Homo sapiens: one gene and its partners. The protein of the gene in region 3 purifies or fractionates together with the protein of the main gene of each other region. This does not show direct contact. Each region holds a gene or a part of one and is shown on either strand. Other genes may lie near its edges.

Region 1 (3,500 bases), on a different chromosome or scaffold from region 3:
GGGGCAATGGAGATTCCTGTTGTGAGAAGGATTATATTATAGTTGTTTAGACAGCTTGAAATTCATGGAGTAGCGCCTATATCTCTAAGGAACAGGGCACTCTAAGGAGCCTTCATCAGCGGAGCTCCCCAGGTTGTACCAAGGTGGCTTCCTGTTGCCTTCCTATGGCAGTGGTTCTCAACTTGGTGGCACACTAAACAGCCCACTGCCCAGGGTGAACCCGGCATCAGTATTTTTTGTTTCTCAGGTCCTTCCTATGTCCAGGGTAGGTTGACAACCACCAGTGAAATGATCCTCCCCTCTCCTTCCCCTAAGGAAGCGTTAAAGGTTAAAGAGACTCAGCTGGCGAGGAAAGAGAAGGGGGTAATGGTAGGGGAGCTCTTCTTCCTCTTCAGGGAGGCAGCTCCTGTACTGGGTCGTGACTTTGAAACTCTGAACCCACCTGCAATATAACCTCTATGATCTACATGATGTTTCTAGCCTCTAGACAGCTCCTTCCGTGACAGACCCCACCCCTGCCTAAGTCTGTGTATTCCTCTTGTCATAATGATGAAAGCTAGGGGGTGGAAGGCTGTAAATATTGGGGATTAGTTCACTATTTTGAATTTGAACAGAACAACATTCAATGATTTCAAACAAAGCATGGGGAATAGAGGGCTTACAATACAGAACTTTTCATTTTCCTTGGGTCATGGAGTGTGTATATGGGTGGGCAGGTGGGGGCTGAGCACTGAAAACCAAGGGCAACCTGAGCTGTGAGTCAAAGTCTACTTTATTAATGTATAACTGTTTTAATGTGGATTATAAAAATAATTATTATTCTTTTAGCATTTCTCCCACTACTAGACTAGTTTTTAACAGAGAAGGGGTCAGGTGCCAAACCACATGGTAGTCTCGGGAAGCATTTCCTTGAACACAGAATGTTAATGCTAGAATGGAATTTGGCAGTCCTCCATGAGTCCTCTCCTTTTCCAAGAGAAGCCATCAATGCCTCTGAGAGGTCATAATGGCCTGGCCCCAGGGCTACTGGCTGAGCCAGAAACAGGAGGGCTCCAGACCCTAGGCCATCAGCTACCTTGCTCCATGTCACCTCGTACATGATCTATGACACCACTAAGGGTTGCCAAGACATTTCATAGGCTGACACACTGATTACAGGGCTAATGATAGATAGATAGATAGATAGATAGATAGATAGATAGATAGATAGATAGATAGATTTATATATTTCCCTCCCATTTACTCTATAAGCCACCTGCAATGACCAAAATGCTTAGTGGCAAGCATACATTTGTCCAAGTGTATGCACCACCTCCATGTGTAAACCAGGCCACCACCTCCATGTGTAAACCTGGGTTCTTGCTGCACACACACACAGAACAAATCATGGAAAAGCTGCATTACTCACTTCTCATGTCATTCATTCTTGGCAAGGAACCACTGCCACATTGCCCACTTTGATATTCTGAGAGCTGGAAAGAGACCAGCACTCATATCACACTCCATCAGCACCTAAACCCAAGGCAGGGCATCTCTCCAGAGACCACTGAGTAGAAAGACCCTGTTCAAGAACTCCCTGACTCAGGCAGTACAAGTGCACCTGGCCCTCCAGCCACCACTGGGCTGGCTACAACACTAAGAGCAATTGGCACTTGCTAAGTAGGCAGTTGGTAAATCCACCCCAACCAGAGCTCAGACTGGCTGCCCTGAATTATACATGCAGCCGGACGATATTCTGAAGTATCAATGCATTTTTCATTCTGGGTCATTTCTGTTGCCTGGGGCCCTCAACCCAAGGAGCTGGGGCTTGCCTCCCTTACTTGAGGAGGAGGGTGGAACCCAGACATGAACAAAGCAGTCAATGTTTAGCTTTTAAATTCCCAAATAATACCATTTCAGTTGTGAAACATTGTGAAAGCCAAGGCTTTTAGGCTTTCATGCTAGAGCCAGGTAGGCTTTTATAAGATTTAAGAGCGAGAGAGAGAGAGAAACTTCTGGGTTCCAAGAACTAGAGCTTGAAGAACTCAGAGCCTAGCATTTTGATTACAAGCCATGGAGAGGGAGGAGCTGTTTCCTGCCATCCAGAGAAGAGATACAAGCTCTTTCTGGAGGCAGGGAAGCAGGGAAGGGGCCTGCAGTGAGAAGAGGGTGAGCAAGAAAATTGAAATGCTCCTTGGATGCCACCCTGGGGAAGGGGGTCTTAGACTCCACTTTCCACAGAAATCCCGGGAGAAGGCAGCTGTCAAAGTTCTCTGGACTAACACGGGGGCTGGAGCCCAGTGGAAACCATGTGGTGTCACTAAGTACAGATGGGGCCTGAAGGCTGGTCGCTCCCTGTGAACTGTGAACAAATTCCCTCAAGTCCCCAGCAGGAAGTGCTGAGGGGCCACTGAGGCCAGAGGCTGCCTGGGGGCAGTGACACACGGCTCCAAATACAGAGATTCAGCAACCCAGAGAGGGAGGCCTAAGCCACAGATGTCAGCACAGATCCTGGCCCAGGCCCCAGGCCTCCTGTGACGAGTCACCTCAGCTGTGGAAGTGAGCCTCCCTACCTGCCACCATGATGTTCTGTAAACCCCCCTCACATCTAGGCAACATCTTAGGACTGGACCAGGGGGAGGAGAGAACCTTCAAGAAAAACCAACAGCCCTGATAGGGAATTTCTACTCTGAATTGACTGTGTTTAAATCTGGAATCGCCTAAGTCATAAACGGATAGTCTATGCTTTCTATTGGAAGAGACTGAGCTACCTTGAAATGGCAAGATTATGCTTTTTTCCACCATTAGAAGAAATGGAAAAAAGATTTTAAAGCTTTTTTTTTTTTTTGGTCAACAACAGAAATGGAAAAAAGATTAAGTTGTTTCCGCCATTGGTCTACATAGAGGCTTGCAAGCAAGTTCAGTTCAGCTAAAGAGAAATTAAGTTGCTGCCCGCCTGAGGGACAGTGTGTGAATTTTCCCTTGACACAAAAGTCACCATGGATGGAGCCCCAAAGTCCAGGCAGAATGGGCTGGATTTCCTCAATGGAGGCTTTCCAACTGTTAGATATAAGCCTCTCCAAGGGACCTGAATGCTTGGTTTCCCACCATCAGAAGCCAGCACCTCAGCTGAAAACGTCTCGTAAGAAAAGACTGATCCTACCCAGCGTCCCATCCCTGTTGACAACCCCTTCCCCTTGCCCCTGTGGTCCTGCAGCTGGCAGTTCCTCATCCACCTCCACCTCCTTGCTCTCTCACATTCAGTAGCTGGCACCTGGAATCGCTGGGCATAGTTGTGTAGGAGCTCCCAGGTGGCTGCTGTGGATCTCGGTGTCCTTGAACAGGCGGCTGAAACCCCTGACCCTGGGCTGTCCAGTGAGACGGCTTCAGCCAGCACTGCCCTCCCCAAGTGGCCTTGTGTTGATTTTCTCTTACTCCTGAGACCTGGCTTCAACGAAACGTGAGAGCAGAGGTGGGAAAACACAGTCTTCCTTGTTAAAGTATTGAAACAAAGATTATTT
Region 2 (3,500 bases), on a different chromosome or scaffold from region 3:
GCTCCTGCTCCAGCTGCCGCTGTGCCTCCTCGGCCCGCCGCTTTTCCTCCAGCCGACGGTTCTCCTCCTCCTTCTGCAGGGAGAGCCACTGCCCGCTCAGCCCTATGCTGCCACTTCAGCCTAATCCCCTGCCCAGGACTGAGTTTTAGGCACATGGCCAAAGACGGGCACCAGAGCCAGTCGATCATTAGCCTTGTGGCTTAACTTACCCGAGCCTCAGTGTGACCATCTGTAATGGGCACCAAGGAGAGTGGATGCTGCATGAGCTCACTTGTGAGGAAAGATGAGCCACAGCAAGCAGAACACTCCCACGTGCCCAGCATGCCCCGGGGCAGCACTCACCTCTGCTTTGGCCCAGAAGCTGTCTTTACCAACCCTTTTAATCTCAGACACGGCATTGGTCTTCTGGTACACAGAGCCCTGTAGGGGACAGCACTCATTAGAGACCTGGACCCAGGTGGAAGGCCAGGCCCACAGGCACCAAAGGAGAGAATACGCTAAACTTGCGACAGCACAGGTGAGTGCTGCTAGGACTGGACCCAGCAGAGGCAGCAGAGCACTGCCCAGTGACCCTCAAGGAGACACACACCAAGATGACCTGAAAGAAGCCCAGGACACTGCCCCAAGGGGGATGCTCAATCCCAGACAACACTAGAGGGGTCTCTGGTGGTCTCTCGCCCTCATGGATGGGGGCCAGGGCAAGAAAGGCCCCCATACCCCACCTGCAGACTCCTAGACATTGGGCAGTTCTGAGGCAGGCCTCTGACCAGGGGCACTCAGACAGCTGACTACCACAAGAGCATCCAAGGAATCACGTCCAACCACACGCATGCGGACGCAGCTCCCAGCCATCAGCTCCACACAGCACTGGGGCCACAGGCCCACAGGTATCTCCCGTGACTCCAAGGGGCCTGCTCTGGTTTCAGGCTCCGCCTTGATGCCTCCTTTAGTTCCTCCACGGTGGCTACCTCCAGGGGCAGCCCAAGATGTTCCAGTGCCATGACCTTGAGGGCAGCCAGACTATCATAGCCATGCATGCTGCAGAGCCTCCACTCTGACCACACAGGCTGGGCTCCAGAGGAAGGCTCCAGAACAGCTAGTCCAACCCCTAGGCAAGGTCAGAGGGCTATTCCTGCTCATCTGGTCAGTGGGCAATCACCACAGCTCAGGGGTTACCATCTGCAGAAACTAAGCAGGCATGGGCCCAGCCAGCCCGGGTGCTGGGAAGTGCATATTCCTGGCCCCCTGCCTCAGGCCCTGAGCAACAAAAGGGCTGGCGATGGGCAAGCAGCACTCACCACTGGGGCCTGGGGTCCCACGTCCTGGAAGCGGCCACTCTCCTTGTGAAAGCTGTAGTTGGCACCTGAAGCCTTGGCCACCTTCTCCATGATGCACTCAGGCTCCACATCCTCCTCGGCCCGTGCGTTGATGGTCACATGGGCCCCCTGCAGCAGGAGCAGCACTTGAAAGAAGGGCTTTGCAAGCCCAGGAGATGGGCCAAACTCCTGTCAGTCCATACAGCACGGGCCACTACTATACCACACAGGACTGGAATCAGGAAACTAGAAGGCACCTGTCTGGCTGCTGAAAACTGAGGCACGAGTTCCCCTCAAGGGCTCAAACAAACCAACTTGGAGCAAACCCCTCATTCTTGTCCCAGTTCACGTGAGACCCTTGACCTCCACTGTGCTATCCAGTGGTTCCTTCTGTAGCTGTTCCCTGCTGTGTATCAATAGACAGCCCAGGCATAATTTGCATCAAAGGCCTTCCTTCTAATCAATGAAAACTAATTTTAAATGCCATCTGGAAGCCACAAAAGACCCTGAATAGCTAAAGCAATCTGAAGCAAAAAGTACAAAGCTGGAGGCTTCATGCTACCTGATTTCAAATTAAACTACAAAACTACAGTAAGCAAAACAGCATGGTACAGGCATAAACACAGACACAACAATGGAAACTAACAGAGCACTCACACACACAGCCAACTCATTTTTAACAAAGGTGACAGGAACATACACTGGGGAAAGGACGGTCTCCTTCATAAACAGGGCTAGGAAAATTGGATATCCATATGCAGAAGAATGAAACTAAATCTTCATCTTTTACCATATTAAAAAAAAACTCAAAATGGGTTAAAAAGACTTAAATGTAAGACCTGAAACTATGAAACTACTCAAAGAAAACACTGGGTAGATGCCCCTGGACATTGATCTGGGCAAAGATTTTTTTTGGGTTAAGACCTCAAAAGCCCAGGCAACAAAAGCAAAAATCAACCAATTGGACTACATCAAGCTAAAAGGCTTCTGCACAGCAAATGAAACAATCAACAAAGTAAACAGACAACCTACAGAATGGGAGAAAATATCTTCAAACTATCCATCTGACAAGGAATTAGTGACCAGAATATATAAGGAACTCAAACAACTCAGTAGCAAAAAAATAATAATCTGATTTTAAAATGGGCAAAAGACCTTAACAGATATTTCTCGAAAGATGATATACGCATGGCTAACTACATACAAAAAAATGCTCAACATCACTAACCATCATCAGGGAAATGCAAACCAAAACCATAACGGGCTATCATCTCACCACAGTTAGAATGGCTATTATAAAAAACATAAAAAATAAATGCTAGCAAGGATGTGGAGAAAGGGAAATTCTTATACACTGTTGGTAGGAATGTAAAGTAGTACAGCCATTATAAAAACAGTATGGTTTTTTGGGTTTTTTTCTGAGACAGAGTCTTACTCTGTTGCCCAGGCTGGAGTGCAGTGGACAATCTCGGCTCACTGCAACCTCCACCTCCCAGGTTCAAGAGATTCTCTGCCTCAGCTTCCTGAGTAGCTGGGATTACAGGTGCCCGCCACCACACCTGGCTAATTGTTGTATTTTTTTAGTAGAGACGGGGTTTCACCATGTTGGCCAGGCTGGTCTTGAACTCCTGACCTCAGGTAATCTGTTCACCTTGGCCTCCCAAACTGCTGGGATTACAGGCGTGAGCCATCGCGCCTAGACAACAGTATGGTTTTTAAAACAGTATTTTAGTCCTACTAAAAGCAGAACTACCATATGATCTAGCAATCCAGCTGCTGGGGATATATCCAACTCTGAAGTTCAGCGCTATTAACAATAGCCAAGATACGGAATCAACCAAAACGTCCATCAATGGATGAAAGGGTAAAGAAAATTTAGTATATAAACATGAGGGAATATTATTCAGCCATAAAACAGAATGGCATCCTGTCATTTGCAGCAACATGGATGGAACTGGAGGTCATGATGTTAAGGGAAATAAGCCAGGCACAGAAGACAAGTATTGCATGTTCTCACTCATGTGGGAGCTAAAAAAGTGGGTATCATGGAGGGAGAGAGTAGAATGCTGGTTACCAGGGGTTGGGAAGGGCATGGGGGAGAGAAAATGAAGAGAAGTTGCTTAACAGGTACAAAAGTACAGTTAAATAGAAGGAATAAATTCTAGTATTCAATAGTACAGAAGG
Region 3 (3,520 bases):
CCTGTTACACTACGTGGCAGCCTTTTTAAGTAAAAGAAGCAGATCTAAGTAGCTTACTGCTGCCAGTAACCTTGCCATTAGCGTTAACATAAATGATGAAAGTTTCTAATAAATAAAATGGATTTAGTGCTTTGCTTTTAAGTTTTTCCCTTGAAGTCTTATGATTTAACAAGGAAATCATTTTCCTTTGCCTGCATTTTATGATTAACTCAAAATTAACCACATTTCCCCTCGACTAACAAATTGATGTATCTACATGCTGACTTTAACAAACAGTCATGCAGGAATATGTTTTCATTTTTAGCGATCATGTTTCTTTTCTGTTGAATTATAATGAAGTGCCCATTAAAAATTTTGTGTCTTTAATTTCAGAAATTAAATTTGTGTTTTAATTGAACAGGTAACACAAGAAATTTCAGATAGCACAAGAATTTTCAGGCTGCTTGGATCTGACAGGTATGAAAACGGACTGTATTAAATACACAGTACTAAACGTGTTTTATAGATCCAGCATGAAACAGATTTCTTTTTCAAGAGAATTGAAATGTCTGCAATATGTTCAACATTGAATTTTTCACACTATAAGAATTCACAGGTCAGAAAGTTAGCCTTTGAAAATGTACCTGATCTTCCAAGTAACAGGAATGTATGGATCTGTCAGTACTAGTTTCCATTAAACATACTGACATCTGATTTGCAGCAGAAGAAAGAGGAAATACCATATGTTAATGAACAGAACTTTGTGTTGTTAATGCCGATAGGATTTTGGAGACCTGTTCTGATTGACTGTAAGACATTGGTCAGGGTGGTGGGAGAGATTATAAAGTTATAGGAAATAGACACAAACCTTCTTGGAAGGCCAGAAGGTTTGCATAGCTTCAGTAAAAGATTTGGCTGAAGGCAGCTGAATTCTCTTAAAAGCTTAGGGCATAGATACATAGGAATGTAGAGGAGTTTATCTAAATAGCTTGTTTACTCATGTTGTCCTAAAACCAACCTTTGATCATGCGGGCAGGACTGCTCTTTCCTGGGGAGGGCAACCTGATAAATTACCCACAAGTAGGTTGACTCAAAGCCTTTGTCATTAAATCTGTGCTGAATAAATGCCTGCAGGGACAGCTAGTCAGGGCACACGGCCACTACAACTCTTTCTGTGAGCGCCCTGGCCCCCTAGCCAGTCTTTCACTGAATACCAGTGTCTGGGTACGTTATTCATCCATTGTGCAGCGTGGGTCTCTGGGTCAGACCCTGGCAATTTAGCTTCTGGTTCTTGAACTGCAAATCGTTTTTAGAACTTGTAATAAGAATTAAGTTCCCCCAAATAATTTCTAATATAGGTTTCTCCCCACTTCTGACTCTTAGAAGAACACTGGCCTAGAGGTGGGAGGTAGTGGACAGCAAAATTACTTCCCAGAGCTAGAACTGGCCCTGTAATCACAGTGATAGCAAATGATTTCTGCCCACGATCAAATGAGCAGCATTTATAGAGGCACATATTGGAGAAGCAATGGAAAATTTGGGAGCTAACATTAATTTTCAGGAATAACTTTGTTTTGTTATATGTTTTTTATTACTTTCAGGGTCGTGGTTTTGGAAAGTAGGCCAACTGATAACCCCACAGCAAATAGCAATTTGTACATCCTGGCGGGTCATGAAAACAGTTACTGAGAATTGTTGTGCTTTGACAGTTAACTCTAGAAAGAAAGAACACTACCACTGCAACATTAATGGATGCTTGAAGCTGTACAAAAGCTGCAGTAACCTGTCTTCAGTTACTTTGTAATTTATTGTGGCATGAGATAAGATGGGGAAAATTTTGTTTTAAGTGGTATGGATATATTTAGCATATTGAACCACACAAGTGCTTAATTCATTGTTATGTAATCTTTGTACATATAGGCAGTATTTTTTCTGTGAAACTTCATATTGCTGAAGACATACACTAAGAATTTATGTAGATAATGTACTTTTATGAGATGTACAAGTAAGTGTCTTATCTGTACAGATGTAAATGTTGATGAAAATGCAATTGGGGTTAATATTTTAAGAATTCTTTAGTATATTCTTGGGTGTGGCTATATTACAAAATGGGATGCTGGCAATGAAACAATACATTTAACACTATTGTATTTTTATTATATGTAATTTAGTAATATGAATATAAATCTTGTAACTTTTAAAATTGTAATGGAGGCTGTAATCATTTTATAATCTTTTTAATTTTAATGCAAGTACACTGGTGTTTATATTTGCACAAAGTATTGATATGTGATGTATTAAGTCACAAAAGTAAGCTGTGACATTGTCTATAAGCATTTGGCTCCACAAATGTATTTGGATTGTTTTCTATGTGAAGCAAACCAATTATAATTAACCACATGTTGTAGTAACTGGTCTTTTTATATTTAAGCAGAATCCTGTAAGATTGCTTGTCTTTGCTTAAAAACAATACCTTTGAACATTTTTGAATCACAGAATAGCGGTACCATGATAGAATACTGCAATTGTGGTCAGAATTACAGTATGCACAAAGAATTAATTAGCATTATTAAAGAGTCCTCACTAAACATTTCATATGATCACACTGAAGAACTGTAACATTCCATAGAGTGAAGTGGTTCAAATTTCTCTTGGAATTTTTACTTTTGTTGGCCTTATTTTATGATCCTTTTCATATTTCTTTTGACTTAGAGTATTAATACATGGCCAAAATAATTTAGTTACTACCTCATACAAACAATATAATGGTTACTACACATCACAGGAACTTAGTTTTGGTTTAAGTCATTTTTGATTGCTTTTTTCCAATGGAATATGTATATACCAGGTTTTAGCAAAATGCACACTTTTGGCTCTTTTTGGTATATGTTCTTTATATTTTAATGTGAGTATATACACTAAGAACAAACTAAATTGTGATTTATGATCTTCATTTATTTTAATGATAATGGTTTTAAAATATGTTCCTGATTGTACATATTGTAAAATAAACATGTTTTTTAACATGCTGTTGTATAGTAGCTTGTCATCTGGTTTAATCTGTATATAGTAACACTAAAATATATTAAGAGGGGAAAGCTTTATTTGTTTTGTAGTTAAATTCTTAAGTATTGAATTTTGGTCCCTCAAATCATGATTTTTATTTGATATGGGGTTTCAGTTTCATGAAGCATTAATATTTCCACACAGGAGAAAAGGGCATCTTTTGCAGAAACTTCGACTTCCTGATAAGAAAAGTCAAACATTCATAGTTTTCTGGTTAGAGGCAGGGGTCCACAAACTACAGTCCTCAGACCAATCCAGCCTACTGCCTGTTCTTGTAAATAAAGTTTTAATGGAGCACAACACCACGTATTCACTCACATGCTGTCTATGCTGCTTTGGTGCTACAATATTTGAGTTGAGTGGCTTCTGAAACACTATATGGTCTGAAAAGCCTAAAATTCTTACTTTGCTGACCCTTTACAGAAAAAATGTGCTAGTGCCTGGGTTAGAGAAAGTAAGGAAGCATTGGGAAATG
Region 4 (3,500 bases), on a different chromosome or scaffold from region 3:
CCCGGCCGGGAAGAGGCAGCCCGCGCCTGCCTCCCAGCAGATGCCCACAGCGCCAAGCGACAGCCTCGTGCTCATGCGGGCGGAGCAGGCGCACGGCCGGGGCTTGGTGGGCATGCGTGCTCTGTGCCGTGGCAGGCACCGCTCTTTCAATCCTCACAACAGCCTTGCGAGGTGGGACTTCTTAAGATGAAGACACCGAGGCCTAGGAAGGCAAAAATTACAGGCCCAAGGTCACCCAGGTTGGAAGCACCGGGCACTGAACCAGATGGCTGGAATCCACTAGAGCAAGGGGATTTTCAGGGGAGCCAGGCTTCCCAGGGCCTGCACCCCATGGGCACCGCAGTCTGCAAATCACCCGCATTCTGCACCAGACACAGTGCCACCTCTGCCGGCCGGGCCTGACACCTCGGTCGGGGGCGTCAGGGACCCAGAGGCACCAGGCAGGTTGTCTGAGGCCACAGATGGGATGCAGGCGGTTTCCATGGGAACCCGCACCCTCCAGCCGTGGCACCTCTCCCTGTACTTGTGCAGGGACAGCCAGCTAGTCCTGTGGGGAGCCGAATCCACACTCTACACAGCCATCCTCCTGCTACCTTCAAGCCTCTGCTGACTCAGTTCCCGCCTCCCTTCTCCTCCCTCCCAACCAAGCTGCTCTTTGAGTCCTCTAGGCACATGGATCACTTCCCATCCCTGCAGACCTCTCCAGGCACCTGCAGCCCACCTCCCACACAGCCACGCACCTCTCATGAGCTAGACTGACCTCCTTTGCTGAGCTGCACACAGGGTGGCGGCACCTCCTTTCTCAGGACCCAGGGCTGGGCATGCACTGTCCTGACCATACGCCTGGGCCTCCAATCCCCAGCAGGCACAGCTGCCCAGGAGCAACTTGGAGGTCTGCACTTTCACACCCTGCCAACCGCCAGTCAAAAACCCCTGCTATCTTGGTGTGGGTGGGTCATTCTTTATTAGGGGGAGGACAGGGAGGAGGAAGAGAGGGGACATGAGGAAGGGAGACATGGACAGCTCTTTCTTGTCCTCAAATTATGGTTCCTAGGGCCTGGCACAAAGTAGACACTCAGGCAGTATTTGTGAATGAGTCAATGGAAAGAAAACGAATGAATGTATGGATAGGATGTGGATATGTGGAAAGGGGAGAGGGCATTCCAAGAGGAAAGAATAGCAGAGACGGAGGTGTGGAGCCTAGAATCCAAGTGGCGATGCAGGCACAGGTCCCAGCACAGAAGTCACAGGAAGGCTGGTGGGCACATGGCCTACGGACAGTGGAGGCCTTGAGTACCAACAAACATGGACTTTGTTCCACAGGCCACAGAAAACCAGACATGATATTCGATCTCCACAAAATCCCCAAGGACCACCCACTACCAACATGGGCACAGGGGGTGTCTGGGATCTCTGGAGAATGAAGCAGCCTGTTGCCAGGATGCCAAGAACAGGCTCAGTGTGACACACATGGCCCACACTGGCTCACCAGGGCACTGCTGGTGCAGACATGATGAAGGCTGGAACCCACACCTGGGACCACTGGTGAGGAAAACTCCAGAATGCCTATGCCATTCCCCAGGAAAAGCCACAGTGTGCCTGCCCACTTAAATAGCAGTAGCAGGGGGCTCTGAGGTTACACTCAAGAAAGAACTTCCTCCTAGAGGGTTCTGAGACAGAAGGATAAAACTTCCTTCCCTGAAGTTTTGTGACAGGAACAAAAGCCCAGGATGTCACAGCAGATGGAAATGTCAAAACTTGATGCCCCAAGGGGACCAGGCACCAGAATTCACTCAGCACTACATTATTAAGCACCTGCTGGATGCTCTGCTCTGCACTGGCACAGTGAGGGGGAGGGGAAGACACCAGCTGGGCCTACCCCTCGAGGGGCCTGATTTAGAGGGGCTAGACACAGACACCCAAACATTTGTGGGATTAATGGTGCAGCTGGCAGCTCAGCTAGGGAAACTGGTCAAGGTCACCCGATCAGTTTGTGTGATGGTGGTGGGGAGCCCAGAGGTGCCCAGGTGCTCAGCCAAGGAGGGCATTGGCTCCTCCATAGGCCAAGGGCAGTATCTCAACAGGCAGAGGAGGTGGTGGGACCCCTGTCCCCAAGACTTACCAGTCGCCCAACACCAGGACACAGAGCAGCTCTGGACAGCTACTGCAATCAGCACAGTTCAATAACCGTGAAAGAACCCGTGGTCCGTCCCCCACAGCTAGAAGCTGTGGTTTGAGGAACGTGGGGAGGTTCAGCAAACCTTCTTAAAGAGTTCTTTCCATCCAGCATAGTTCTCACAAGGGCATTCAGCCTTAATGTCTCTTTCTCTGTTTATGCCTGTGCTATATTTAGCCCCTTTAGAGAAGGAAGAAAATCGTTTTTTAAAGATGCTACCCACCCCACAGATGAACACTTCCCACCACCATAAAGGCTGGGGGTGGAGACAGGGGCCCAGGGAAGGACTGGAAAATGCCTAGAGGGAGGCCTGGCATCCACTCGGCCTCGCTGCCTGCCAGGGAGACACAGGTGTGGGCCAGAGAAGCAGGTGAGGAAAATAAAACGGGAGAGCAGGAGGGGGTGGGCAGCAATGGTTTGCAGCCTCAATCCATCCACTCAGCAGAGCTCGTGTGCTCTCCTGGATGGAGGTTTCTGGTACAGCCTGTTTTGGGGGCCTCTGCCTGGCACACGGGGCCAGGGACACAAGACAGTGATAGCCAAGGGGATGGCATGGGCCCGGGCACAGAAACCTGTGTGCTGCCTATGCTGGGGGCAGGCCTACCCTGGGTCCTGGTGAGACCCACAAAAAGAGCCCTCTCTGTGCAAATCGTCAGCAGAGCACTCAGGAACTGGTTCCCTGACACACCCTCAGCCTCTGGAAGGAAAGAAGCCCAGCATTCATTTCATGGTTGCTCATTCATTCATTCGTCTTTGAGCCAATGAGCCACTATGCTTGTTGCTGGGAATTCAGCAGCAAAATGATCCTGATCCTGAACCCAATCCAGGGTAATGTTTTGTGCATGGAAGGAGCGGGCCAGAGTACAGAGCCTGGTGGCTACACTGTCCTTCCCAAAGCACCGCCACACACTAGAGGGAATGGGCTCCTTGGAGGTTCAGCTGGGGTCTGATGCTGGTTTTGCGCGCCCCAGGAGGGGGCCCTGGCTCAGCCCACCTCCATGCCCAACACAGTCACAAACAGGAACACTGTGTGCCTCTCCCTAGTGTGAAGCCCAGGATTGCTTCTCAAGATCTTGGCTCCATTCTCTGTTGCTTAGGCGTGGGACCCTGCCTGGTCTCCCTTTGATACCTATCCATCACCATGTCAAGTGGGAGAGACGTGAGGGGCTTAAGCATGCCAGCAGCATAAAGCAAAAGAGCTTCTCCACACACCCTGCTAGCTGCCTCTCCTGGCTCTCAGCTACTCTGAGGACAGTGTCTGTAAAGTCCTAGCACCTTGCCTTGTCCTTGGCAAGTGCTCCATTGGTGCTAGCCACTGCCCTGG

What was found. The genes of interacting proteins can lie anywhere in the genome.
Region 1: the proteins of MAP4K3 (region 3) and SH3GL3 purify together in Homo sapiens (affinity purification with mass spectrometry, with the first as the bait; one study listed by BioGRID). This does not show direct contact.
Region 2: the proteins of MAP4K3 (region 3) and DBNL purify together in Homo sapiens (affinity purification with mass spectrometry, with the first as the bait; one study listed by BioGRID). This does not show direct contact.
Region 4: the proteins of MAP4K3 (region 3) and ZNF423 purify together in Homo sapiens (affinity purification with mass spectrometry; one large-scale study listed by BioGRID and IntAct). This does not show direct contact.

The regions. Positions count from the first base shown.
Region 1 is NC_000015.10:83,611,341-83,614,840, reverse strand, and holds part of SH3GL3 (endophilin-A3), read right to left. Parts: intron 3,428-3,500; exon of another isoform or gene 3,424-3,427; coding exon of another isoform or gene 3,254-3,423; intron 1-3,253. UniProt on the Homo sapiens protein: Implicated in endocytosis. May recruit other proteins to membranes with high curvature.
Region 2 is NC_000007.14:44,054,702-44,058,201, reverse strand, and holds part of DBNL (drebrin-like protein), read right to left. Parts: intron 1,446-3,500; coding exon 1,299-1,445; intron 421-1,298; coding exon 343-420; intron 74-342; coding exon 1-73. UniProt on the Homo sapiens protein: Adapter protein that binds F-actin and DNM1, and thereby plays a role in receptor-mediated endocytosis.
Region 3 is NC_000002.12:39,248,766-39,252,285, reverse strand, and holds the end of MAP4K3 (mitogen-activated protein kinase kinase kinase kinase 3), read left to right. Parts: intron 1-400; coding exon 401-456; exon of another isoform or gene 457-461; intron 462-1,580; coding exon 1,581-1,668; 3' UTR 1,669-3,020; downstream 3,021-3,520. UniProt on the Homo sapiens protein: Serine/threonine kinase that plays a role in the response to environmental stress. Appears to act upstream of the JUN N-terminal pathway.
Region 4 is NC_000016.10:49,492,613-49,496,112, forward strand, and holds part of ZNF423 (zinc finger protein 423), read right to left. Parts: intron 1-3,500. UniProt on the Homo sapiens protein: Transcription factor that can both act as an activator or a repressor depending on the context. Plays a central role in BMP signaling and olfactory neurogenesis. Associates with SMADs in response to BMP2 leading to activate transcription of BMP target genes.